4 separate regions of the Homo sapiens genome follow, and all the other regions are reported to be linked to region 3. Evidence: microRNA targets listed by miRTarBase, many of them from high-throughput screens and not tested one by one. Region 3 holds a microRNA gene; each other region holds the end of a gene's coding sequence. Distances are from middle to middle.

Region 1 (3,102 bases), 52 Mb from region 3:
GCTGGGCATGGTGGTGTGCGCCTGTAGTCCCAGCTACTCAGGAGGCTAAGGTGGGAGGATCGTTTGAACACGAAAGGTCAAGGCTGCAGTGAGCCGTGATCATGCTGCTGCACTACAGCCTGGGCAACAGAGTGAGACCCTGCCTCAAAAAACTAATAATAATAAATAAATCCTTTGTTTTTCAGCACAATTGATAATAACGTTTAAAGTCCTTTTGGTGAATAATTTAAACAAATTAAATACAAATCTGATTGGTTTTCTACTTGTTTATTTTTTTAATGTAGTTAATAACTGGAAGTATTTTATTTTGCAGGTGATCACTGTGTTCAGTGTTGTTGGAATGGATTCAGACTGGCTAATGGGGGAAAGGGGAAACCAGAAGGGCAAGGTGCCAATTACCTACTTAGAACTGCTCAATTAAGTAGGTGGACTATGGAAAGGTTGCCCATCATGACTTTGTATTTATATACAATTAACTCTAAATAAAGCAGGTTAAGTATCTTCCATGTTAATGTGTTAAGAGACTGAAAATACCAGCCATCAGAAACTGGCCTTTCTGCCAATAAAGTTGCATGGTAAATATTTCATTACAGAATTTATGTTAGAGCTTTCATGCCAAGAATGTTTTCTTACAAAATTCTCTTTTTATTGAGGTTTCACTAATAAGCAGCTTCTACTTTTGAGCCTCAACTTAAAGCAGAACTGTTTTCTACTGGATTTTTCATTAACAGCAAGCTTTTTCTTTTATGTAAAATAAATCTATTGTGAATTGATATCAGCGACTCATTTATTAGGTATAAATAATAGCCAAAGAATAAAATTAAAATTTATTTTAAACTTTCGGTCTTAAAAAGAGCTGTAGGATATAAACCTCTTTTGTGAAAAGTAGAATTTTCTGAATGCTTTCATAGACAAAAACGCATTTAAACTATGTTTACCTGGTTTTCCAACAGAAATCAAATGATTTTAATATTATGTTTTGATGGGTTATTTTCAGAGTTGTTTGGTTTTTTAAACACTACTGAATGGTTTCTTTTAAATTTAAGAACAACTAGTTCTTGAAAAGCAATACCGTATTTCTCTGATAAATTTGTAGTTAAGGTTCTAGAAAATCTAGGACAAATTTACTTCATTAAACATAAAGTTTTTAAGATTATTCAGTTGGCACAATTTAATGCATAATTGGGATTGGATCCATTTACTGTACTGTGGTACAGTAAAGAGAATGTGTTCTTATTGAACAGCAGATTTGTATACAAATACGGAATAATGCAACTACATTATAAATTGTATACGAACAAAATAAATTGGGTCACTCTGAGCTTACTATTAAAACATTGAAAATTTATTAATGAACACAGGCTATCTTGATGAGGATCTCTGCTTATGAAACACATACTAATGAAATTATTAGTGACACATTGGAAGCTAGAAAATTGCTGTTGGGGCCATTGCTATAAATCATTGTTTCCATGTTAAGACTTCTGTTCTAATTCATTCATTCAACAAACATTTGTTGAGGGCCAGATACTGTGCTGGTCAACTGGGGATACTGTCCTGAACAATATGCACACAGTTCTTGCCCCTGCAGAGCTTAAAGACCATTAAAGGATACAGAAAATTAAGCAATTATCCTATAGTAGGATTCGTGGTGTGATGGGGAAAATACAAGGTACTGTATTTGGGAGTCATGTAACTCCAGTTTTGGGAGTGAGAGAGGGTCTGGGGAAGAACTGTTCCAGATAAAAAGATGTGTAACCAAGATAGCATAGCACATTCTGACAACTAAAGCAATTTACTCTAACTTAAGCATGAAGTACAAAAGTATAGTTCATTTATTGAGGGAATGTTAAGCTATTAAAATGATACTTTTTGGTACTTTTAAAAAAATGAATACTTAAACACCGTTTTAAAATTTTGTGTTAAGAGCTCCTAATAAGAACTTGGTAAACATGTTGACAATTTAACTCACAGTCTAAACTTTAAAAGTAGTAGTTACCCTTTTATTTCTGTGCCATGAGACAAATTCTTCTGCAGTTTTATAGTTGTACAAGATGTTTTGACTCACTCTCAATTGCCATATTCTTAAAGAAACCCTGAAAAGCTGCTCAAGCTGGTCAGTTTTCTGTAAAACCAAGTAAATGAAATTTTCTCTCCCCTCAGAAAGGAAGTTCTACAGCCTAGAGTACCATCTATTGTGTTTTATAAGTCCAGATTTAGGCTTTGAAAGATCATACCAAAACTTCAGATCGACTTAAACAGCAACTATGAATTAGGTTTATGGGAAATGTAGTAATACAGGGGAAAGAATATCGGTAATGGAGTGAAATGGTCCTGGGTTCAAATCCAGTCTTCCTCACATATTGTGCTCTTTAAGCTTCAAATGAGATGTATAACTGCCTTTTCCTTACCAGTAAAATGAGGACAATAATTATGACACCATAGGGTGGTTGTGAGGATTAGCAAATGTTATCTTGTATTTCAGGTGCCTTTCAGGGAAAGGCTTGGCACATAGTAAACACATCCTGTAAATATCAGTTTCCCCTTGTTAGCCCCTGTAGCATCCTGACCTACCAAGTCTATAGGCCTTGCATATCACTGTGCACCAGAGATACCTCTTTTACATCTGGGCTCTGTTTTCTCTCTATCAATCCTATCCTCCACCCTCTTTAAATCAGACCCCAGGTTTAACCTTCCCACAGTCAGTATAAATCATTTTTCAGAACTTTCAGCTTTCCATCAAGTGAAAGTTGATTTTAGTTACCCAGTAATGTACAGAAACCTTCAATAATGTTAAGCTTCAAAGGCTTCTGGTACGTTTGTCTACCACAGAACCACCACAATATATATGCTTGTTCTTAGGTTTATTGCTTTTTATTTTAATGGGGTTTGGTTGTTTGGGTTTTATTTTGGTTTTGGCTTATTTTAAAGTCAAGTTTAGTTTTTACTCAGGTAAAGGCCTGAAGTTTCTTGGGCGTGGAAGAAAAAGCTTGGGAAGCCTATTAATTCATGGTGCAGTTCAGAATTGTTTAAATAAGCTCTGTGCCACTGAGCTTAATCTGAAAGTATAGTGACATGTGAAGGATGCACATATGAATGAAA
Region 2 (3,102 bases), not on the chromosome of region 3:
ACGGTGAAGCTTTCAATGTTGCCCTCTGTGAGCTGGCTGGGCACCTCCCTGTCAAAACATCCCAGGACTTCAGCAGCCTGACAGAGGCAGCTGCTGTGGCCCTCATTCAGGACTGTCGGCTGCCCCCATCCCAGGCAGAAGACGTACAGGCAGCACTGGTGGCCCTGATGTCCCAGGAAGAGCAATAATACTTCTGGATGTATTTATGTTCTTTTTTTCTTTTCTTTTGAGATAGGGTCTCACTCTGTCCCCAGGCTAGAGTGTAGTGGTATGATCCTGGCTCACTGTAGCCTCCACCTCTGGGGCTGAAGTGATCCTCCCACCTCAGCCTCTTGAGTAGCTGAGACTATAGGCGTGCACCACCACACACCTGGCTTTTTTTTTTTTTTTTTTTTTTTTTAACGATTAGGTGATTTTGTATTTTTTTATATAGACAGCGTTTCACCATGTTGCCCAGGCTGGTCTTGAACTCTTGGGCTGAAGCAGTCCTCCCACCTCGGCCTCCCAAAGTACTGAGATGACAGGAGTGAGCCCCTGGATTCTTTTCTGTTTCTTTTTTTTTTTTTTTTTTTTTTTTTTTTTTTGAGATAGTCTCGCTCTGTCACCTAGGTTGGGGTGCACTGGTACAATCTCGGCTCACTGCAACCTCCACCTCTAGGGTTCGAGTGATCCTCCTGGCTCAGCCTCCCGAGTAGCTGGGACTATACAGGCTCCTGCCACCAAACCCGGCTAATTTTTTTGTATTTTTAAAAGAGAAGGGGTTTCACCACATTGGCTAGGCTGGTCTTGAACTCCTGACTTTAGGTGATCCGCCCGCCTCGGCCTCCCAAAGTGCTGGGATTACAGGCGTGAGCCACCACACCCAGCCAGGATGTATTCATTTTCTACCTGATGAGTCCCTTTCCAGAGCACTGTCCATCATAGTCCTTTGGACATTTATTTTCATGGCTGCCTTCTCACCTGTCTCAGCCTAAGAAGAAGGATGAAGAAAGCTGATAATGATCTCTTAAAGGGGAGAAAGATAATGGTCTCTTTAAAGGGGAGCTGATAGTGGTCTCTTTAAAGGGGAGAAAATCTGGAATAATTCTACTGAGTAAGACATCATGAATGTATCTGCTACCTCTCCCCGTTCTTGTTCAAGCCCCAGGGGTGTTAAAAAGGAGTGTGTGTGACAGTTACACACTCCTGACTTTACATTTAGATTTTGTCTTCCTTTGATATCAAATGTTAGCACGGTAATAGTGCCTGTGCCTCCAGTATTGAGCTGCCACTTCTGTTCTCAGCCTGTTTATTCCCCTTTGCTCACCACTTATTTTTATTGCTTTGTCCCTTCTTTCCATTTAGCCCTGCTCCACCCAAATGCCCCACTCCTTCACTTTCCCTGCCACCTTGAGCTTTCCTCTAGCCCCCAACACCAAGTTGAATGCTCTTCACTGACATCATCTGATGTAAAAACACAGTGTTGTCACAACTTTCCGGGTGCACGTCTTTTTTTGTTTTGTTTTTTTGTAAGGCTGGGGTGCAGTGGTGCAATCACAGCTCACTGCAGACCCAAACTCTTGGTCTCAAGCCACCCTCCCACCTCAGCCCCCTGAGTAGCTGGGACGATAGGTGTGCACCATCACACCTGGCTAATTTTTAAATTTTTTGTAGAGATAGGGTCTTGCTATGTTGCCCGGGTTGCTGTCAAACTCCTGGCCTTAAGAAATCCTCCCACCTCGGCCTCCCAGAGTGCTAAGATGCCACCACACCTTGGTGCAGGTTTTTTTTTTTTTTTTTTTTTTTTTTTTTTGACACAGGGTCACTGTCACCCAGGCTGGAGTGCAGTGGTATGAAGACAGCTAACTGCAAGCTTCAACCTCCTGGGCTCAAACAATACTCCCATCTCAGCCTCCCTAGTAGCTGGGACCACAGGCATGCGCCACCACACCCGGCTATTTTTTTGGAGAGATAGCATCTTGCCAAGTTGCCCAGGCTGGTCTCGAACTCCTGGCCTCAAGATCCTCCCACCTCAGCCTCCCAAAGTGCTGAGATTATAGGCATGAGCCACTGCACCTGGCCTGAGTTTTTTTTTTTTTTTCTTGAATCAGAGTTTCACTCTGTTGCCCAGGCTGGAGTGCAGTGGTGTGATCTCGGCTCACTGCGTCTCTGCCTCCTGGGTTCAAGCAATTCAGCCTGAGTCTTCTTAATACCCCCATTCAAAACGGGATGGAGACTGACAGTTTGTACTTTGTTCAAGGTCAGGCAGCTGGAGTCGGGACTGCAGCACAGGCAGGTACCAGAAGATGAGCTGGGACAATGTGTGCTTGTGACCGCCTCTCCAGTCAGTGGTTCCCATGGTGGGTAGCACTGTCCTTAACAGTTTGCCCTCCCTGAGCCTCAGCCATCCCTCTTGGGGTCTTTCCCAAGCACTTTAGAAGCTCCTCTTGATGTAGACACAAAATCCAAAGCTAAGTCGTTGTTCCTCCGTCTGCATCTGAGTCAATGTGGGAAATTTTTTTTTATCTCATTGCTTTGTTCTGTCCTGTTTCTCCAGACATTTCACACTGGTTCCAGAGGAACTAGTCAGTAGACACTATTCTAAGAGAGTATGTGGGTGTGAAATCTCATTTTCCTTTTAGCTCCCTTGAATGTTATACAGCAAAAGTAAAAGAAGTCTTGGGTTGGCTGGGCACGTTGGCTCACACCTTTAATCCTAGCACTTTGGGAAGCCGAGGCAGGCAAATCACTTGTCAGGAGTTCGAGACCAGCCTGGCCAACATGGTGAAACCCCATCTCTACTAAAAATACAAAAATTAGGCGTTGTGGCGGCCACCTGTAATCCCATCTACTTGGGAGGCTGAGGCAGGAGAATCACTTGAACCCAGGAGGCGGAGGTTGCAGTGAGCTGAGATTGCACGACTGTACTCCAGCCTGGGCGATAGTGCGAGACTCAGTCTCAAAATAAATAAATACATAAAGTCTTGGGTCCAGCTCTCAACAGAGATTATCACCGCCACCACTCCTTCATCAAACATCCTGAAGGAATGAGAGTCCCTGTTCACAGCGTAAGGGTGAAAGGGGGCTCACACAGGTGGGTTCTGGCTGCTGTCTGAGTGGGCT
Region 3 (3,102 bases):
AGATCTGTAATGCCTTATCCTGATTAATGACGGACCCACACACTGTTATATCCATGGTCACCAAGAGAAAAGCTAACATTCTTGGAAGCAGCATTACTCTTAAAATTGCAATAATCTCCAGGGAAAATAACCCAATTTAAACTTATTCCCTCTTTAGCTAGAATGTGTTTAACTCTTTTAAACTTGTTCTTTGCTGTTACCTGTGTCCTTCAAAGACATGCCCCTTGTTATTCTACGTAACTCCCTTCACTCAGACCTTCAATAATTGCAAAAGCAATTTAACCCCCAGTTTACCATGATACTATTAAAGAGTAAAATAGTCAGTAGCCCAAAGAAATTCTTAGGAAGCCAACACTTTCAATTGGCATGCTTTTTTTAGACCCTAAATTCATATGCATAAATATGCATTCGTTCAGTCTGTCAACCCACGTCTAGGTAATGGTTGAATAAGTTAGAGGAGCTCTCTGACGTCAGGGAACTTACATTCTAGTCAGAAGAGGCAGATACATGAATCAACAAACAAGACCATTCAGGATGCATACGCATTGATCTGAAAGTCTCTTCACTTCACTTGCCTGAGCTGAGGTGGGACCACAATCTTTGAAGAACCAAAGAAGGAGAGTTCTCAGAAGAGGTTATAGCAAGTGCAAAGGTCCTGTGGCAGGAAAGAGCTTGCCAGGCTCAGGAGGTGGAAACATACATTGCCAAATACAAATACACACACAACATATACACCAACACACACCAAAGACTTTCTACAAGGTTTCATTAAATACTGAGTGGGTACAAAAGATATTTATAAAACATGTCTGCTGTACAAAGAATAACAATAAAGGGAACATTCGTGTATCCCACCATCCAGTTTAGAAATGAAAGCGTGACCATCAAGCATGACCTCTTTGATCTGATTGCCTCTCTTCGTAACCCAGAGAAATGCTAATCTGAATTCATTCTCCAATGTTTTTTTTCTTTATCACCTTATATCCTGAACAATATATTGTTTAATACGTTTTTGATCTCTAAGACTAGAATCTTGCAGTTATGTAGGTTTGTATGGCTTGGGGTTTTTGTAGCCAAGTCAAAGCTATGATAAATTTGTTTCTGAAATTTTTGAGTGAAAGAGTTAATAATTTTTAATTAGAATTTGTTATTGAGATAATTATAAATTCATATGCAATTCTGTGTACCATTTATCCAGTTTCCCCCAGTGGTAACTGATATGGTCTGGCTGTGTCCCCACCCAAATCTCATCTTGAGTTGTAGCTCCCATAATTCCCACGTGTTGTGGGAGGGACCCAGGGGGAGATTATTGAATCACGGGGGTGGTTTCCCCCATACTGTTCTCATGGTAGTGAATAAGTCTCACAAGGTCTGATGGTTTTATAAGGGGAAACCCCTTTCACTTGGTTCTCATTTCTCTCATATCTGCCACCATGTAAGACGTGCCTTTCACCTTCTGCCATGATTGTGAGGCCTCCTCAGCCATGTGAAACTGTAAACCCATTAAACCTCTTTTCCTTTATAAACTACCCAGTCTCAGGTATGTCTTTATCAGCAGCATGAGAAGAGACTAATACAATAACATTTTTAAAACACTAGTACAATATCATAACCAGGATATTGACATGATACAGCTCACCAGTCTTACCCAGATTTCTCCAATTTACTTGTATCATTTGTGGTCTGTGTGTGTGTGTGTGTGTCCATCACTAAAGTCAAGACATCAGCCAGTCCATCACCATGAGGATCCTTCATGTTGTGCCTTTATAACCACCTCCCTCCACCTCACCACATTCTTAACCCTCAACAACCACTAATCCCTTCTCTATCTGTAACATTTGTCATTTCAAAATGTTATATAAATGTAATCATACATATGTAGCCTTTGGCATTGACTTTTTTCACTCATAATAATTCCCCAAAGATTCATCCAAGTTGTTTGTAATCAATAGCTTGTTGCTTGTTTATTGCTGAGTAGTATTCCATCCTGTGTATATACCACAGTTTGTCTAACCAGTCACCTGTTGAAAGGCATCTTCAACCAACAGGCAAAAGGTTAAACAAACTGTGGTATATTTGAATGGTTAAACAAACTGTAGTATATTCGACTATTACAAATAAAGCTGCTGTGAACACTTGGCTATTGCAAATAAAGCTCCCCAGGTTTTTGTGTGGACATAAGTTTTTATTTCCCTGGGATAAACACCTGAGGGCGCTACTGCTGGGTCATAGGCATGCTGGGTTTTATAATTAGCTGCCCTCTGTTTTCTAGGCTAGATCTACAATTTTACATCCCATCAACAATATATGAACAAGCCTATTTCTCTACATCCTTGCCAATGTTGGGTGTTCTCATTTTTTTTTTATTTTAGCAATTCTGATAGATGCATAGTGATATGTTATCATGGTTTTAATTTGCATTACCCTTATGTTGAACATATTTCATGGATTTTTTTTGCCATTTGAATAACTTACACTATGGAATATCTATTCATGTGTTTTGCCCATGTTCTAGTAGATTACTTGTTTTCTTTTTACCATTGAGTTTTGAGAGCTCTTATATAATCAAGATTCTAGTCCTTTTCAGGTGTGTGATTTGAAAATATCTTCTCCTACTCAGCAACTTGTCTATAGCTTGCTTTTTTACCCAAGATTATTGTCCTCAGTTTTATCTATGCAGATGGATTTTTTTGGTTTTGTTGCTGTATCATTCTACTATTGTTTTGTATTTTGCTGTATCATTATACTATTGATGGACATTGCTTATTGTTCTGCTTTCACAAGCCATGTTACCATGGGCTTTCTTGATGTGTCCACTGCTGCACCTATATAAGTTCTCTAAGGTATAGACCTAGTAACATTTCTGGATCACAGGGTATGTGCATTATTAATGTTATTAGATAATGCTGAATTTATGCCAAAGAAATTTCATCACTTAGAACTGCCACCAGCAGTGTAAAAGTTCCTATTACTCCATGCCTTTGCTAGCACTTGATCTTATCAGACTTTTTTTCAATTTTAACAATGTAATGGGCATATAATGATATCTATTTCATTTGTATTTCCCAAGTTACAAATAATCATACAAATAAATACAAATAG
Region 4 (3,102 bases), not on the chromosome of region 3:
TAGTAGCCCTGTGGTTTTATGTTTTTGGAATTGCTGTGTTTTTTTAATGCCCTTTTTGCTCTTTCTTCTTCCACAGTGCCATGGAAAGCCATTCACTCCTCAATCCCAACCTGCAGCAAGGTGAAGGAGTCCTCTCCAGCTTCCGAACCACGTGGCAGGAGTTTGTGGAGGATCTGGGCTTCTGGAGAGTATTGCTGTTGATCTTCGTCATTGCTTTGCTGTCTCTTGGCATTGCTTATTATGTGAGTGGGGTGCTACCCTTCGTGGAAAACCAGCCTGAACTGGTGCATTAAAGGAGCTCATGGAAGATGAGGCAATTAATTGCCTGTTTCCTGGCTTCCAATGTTTGTTCTCAGTTTCTCAGAATTTTTCTTAGCGCAAAGCAGTGAGGGCAGTACATGTTCTTTTTGCATTTTTAATTATTGTAATCCTTTTAGATAATGATGTGTTCATTTGAACTAACTACATACTATGATCAAGTATATTGCATCCTAACGCTACCTCTGACTCAACCTGACTTTGTAGGAAAGCCTACACGTAGCCTTGTTTGATAAAAACACGGAAGTGACTAGAGAATGGAAGATAAAGGAAGAAGCTAGGAAGTCCTTGCTATCAAAACCTTATCCTAATATAGGACCAATTGAAGTATTCAAAAAGAAAAACAGTATCTTATATGATTAGTTTTTGTTGGTGGTTTTGTTTTCATTTATTTTTGCAAGAGCCACTTTTTATTTACTTTCTCTAGGGATAAGAGATAAAACTTGAAGTACTTTTTTCAAATCTTGTGTGCAAATTAGTATTGTTAGCATCTATTTGGCTTATTTTAGTATTTTTAAGTCTAGTCACAAACCAAACAAAACTTTTGAAAATGAGCTATATTTTGTTCAAAGATAATTGATTTGATCTTATATTTATTTGTTTTTAGGATAATTTTTGATCTTTTTGTAAACTGCTTTGCTTGTTAATATCTGTGAAAAATAAATGAGTTCATTTTGTTCACTTTCCAATTTTCCCGAGTATCCTAGTCATCAAAGATAACAGTTCATCAGAATTACAGTCAGAAAATCCTTTTTCTACTGAATAGTTAGCAGGGAAAAATAATTCTGATATTTAACTGTCATAATTCTGTAGTGCTATTATAGTGAAAAACTCAGTTCTATAAGCTAGCTGTGTTGTCACAGTTTTATCATAGTTCATAATTATTTCATGTGCAATCCTATTTGGAGGCCCTGTTAGACTTTTAACAATCCCATCCATATCTGTAATTCTCTGATGGCAAGAATGGATGGAGCATTTCTGAGTTAACAGTGCTGGACAGTATCGTACTGGGTGTCATAAACTCTTTATGAATGGTAATATTATGTAAATTGAAATCTGGCCCTCAAACTATATTGCAGCTTTCAGCAGTATGTTTGAAGGCCTCTTTTGTTAATGATTCTGTAATGTATGAATTATGTTCTTGAGTGGTTAAAAAAGAATATGAAGGCTTGATAATTATTTATTGGGTAAAGTCAGGAAATTGTAGTGAAAGAACTAATGGTTTTGTTTTTTGGAATAAAGGCACCTAAGCTATTGCTAATTGAATTGCTGCTAGAATTAGAAATTATGCTTTAGAATAGAATTGGTATTTCTGTGATTCTTTTTGCTTCTTGGTATTTTCTCTTGTATCTATGTATCTAGTATTGAGGCTTGCTCTTTCATGTGGCTTTATCCTCTCTTTAATAGCTGTTGTAAAATTCCTGAGTAACTGGCTGCTTCAGGATCAGCTTGCAGAGTCTTGCTTTTAGGTTAGATACAAACAAAGTAAATCATAGTTGGTGTAAATCCAGCAAAAAACAGCTGGCTTTGGAATGGAGAACACTACAATTCAAATTTGAAGTATATTCAGAAGAAAACTTTGGAATTAGCTTTACATTTGTTTGTAAATCTAAACAAATATGCAAAATTGGTCAAAATGTAAGTATATAGCATTTTTAAAGATTAATGGTTCCTTTTATGTGCTGATTTCTTTGTATTCTGTTCTCTGCATTCATCATTCAGGAATACCACCAATAAATGTATTTATATATCCCTTAATCACGATTTCTCTTTTTTTTTTTTTTTTTTAGTGTATTATAGTTTTAATTTGGGGATTTTGTAATGGATTGCAATTAGCTGCTTTTTAAAACACAGCTTTTTTTCAAACCTAATGTATTAGGTATATTGAGTTTCATATATGTTTGCCTTATAAATACTGTGAAATTAATTTGAGTGAATTGCTCGTAGATTTAAGGGTGATGATCATAACTACCACAATTAAGCCCCTCCCAATTATGCAAGTTTTTAGCATGCAAGTTTTACCCTACGCCCCCTTGAGCACTACATGACCCCAGTTTATAAGATGAGAAAATGGACACAGGGATGGCTAAGTAACTTGTCCAAGGTCAAACAGGTAGGACCTGGTGGAAGAGGGATTCCAGATTGAGGCTCCAGCCCCAATTATGCTTGTGCTTTCCTCCTGTCCCGCTGTCTTTCATGAATCTGGAAATGGAACCATATTTATCCAGAACCTCGCCTGATACCATTTCAGCAGGACATTACTAAATTTTCCACTCGTGGTCCTATATACTTACTTTTTTTCCTTTCTTACACATCTTCCCAGTGGTAGAAGCTTTAATATTCAAGCTCCAACCCTGGCTTGTCAGAAAGTCTTCCATAGTTAACCGTACTTGACTGCCTCCTTCCCAACCCCTCCTTTCCCCACCACTTACCACACTCAGTTTTATTACTTGTATTTTGCATTCCTTGATCCGTTTCTCTGTAAACATGATTTTCTTTCTAACTTGTTTAATTGTAAGCTTCATGAGAGCAGGGACTTAGTCTATTTTTATAACCCCATCTGTCTACAGAGCATCCTGTAGAGCTCTTGGTACACAAATACTTATAGCATTGCTTTTATACCTGTAGCTATATTTTTTCTTTTCAGGTTGAATAGCTCTTTGCCTTTTATGCATCCCCCGCAACAAGCTGCAGGTGTGAGCTGTGCTTGGTCCTCCTTCCACAGTGCGCCTGTAGCTTCATGAACGAACTATACAGGCTGGCAGTGTGGAGCCCCCTCACCTG

What was found. Region 3 holds the annotated microRNA hsa-miR-552-5p (GUUUAACCUUUUGCCUGUUGG, at 2,042-2,062, opposite strand). A microRNA usually pairs through its seed, bases 2 to 8, with sites in the 3' UTR of a target mRNA and lowers its output. Matches are read on the target gene's strand: a 7mer-m8 pairs with bases 2 to 8, a 7mer-A1 pairs with bases 2 to 7 and ends in A, and an 8mer does both.
Region 1: the mRNA of SH3GLB1 is a reported target of hsa-miR-552-5p. The part of its 3' UTR that is shown has no 7-base or 8-base seed match.
Region 2: the mRNA of GDPGP1 is a reported target of hsa-miR-552-5p. Seed matches in the 3' UTR shown: 7mer-A1 at 1,152-1,158.
Region 4: the mRNA of ANKRD46 is a reported target of hsa-miR-552-5p. Seed matches in the 3' UTR shown: 8mer at 1,466-1,473.

The regions. Positions count from the first base shown.
Region 1 is chr1:86,742,815-86,745,916 of GRCh38, forward strand. SH3GLB1 (SH3 domain containing GRB2 like, endophilin B1) reads left to right here. Exons shown (of 9, transcript NM_016009.5): 9 at 314-3,102. The coding sequence ends at 421. Among named protein-coding and RNA genes, the nearest start is that of SH3GLB1, 40 kb to the left of the region's middle.
Region 2 is chr15:90,241,879-90,244,980 of GRCh38, forward strand. GDPGP1 (GDP-D-glucose phosphorylase 1) reads left to right here. Exons shown (of 4, transcript NM_001013657.3): 4 at 1-3,102. The coding sequence ends at 188. It also overlaps a transcript of CIB1 not described here. Among named protein-coding and RNA genes, the nearest start is that of TTLL13, 6.1 kb to the right of the region's middle.
Region 3 is chr1:34,667,609-34,670,710 of GRCh38, forward strand. MIR552 (microRNA 552) reads right to left here and starts at 2,086; the gene lies at 1,991-2,086. The region is part of intron 1 of LOC105378641 (a long non-coding RNA gene); the gene reads right to left.
Region 4 is chr8:100,519,746-100,522,847 of GRCh38, reverse strand. ANKRD46 (ankyrin repeat domain 46) reads left to right here. Exons shown (of 5, transcript NM_001270377.2): 5 at 77-2,076. The coding sequence ends at 293. Among named protein-coding and RNA genes, the nearest start is that of ANKRD46, 38 kb to the left of the region's middle.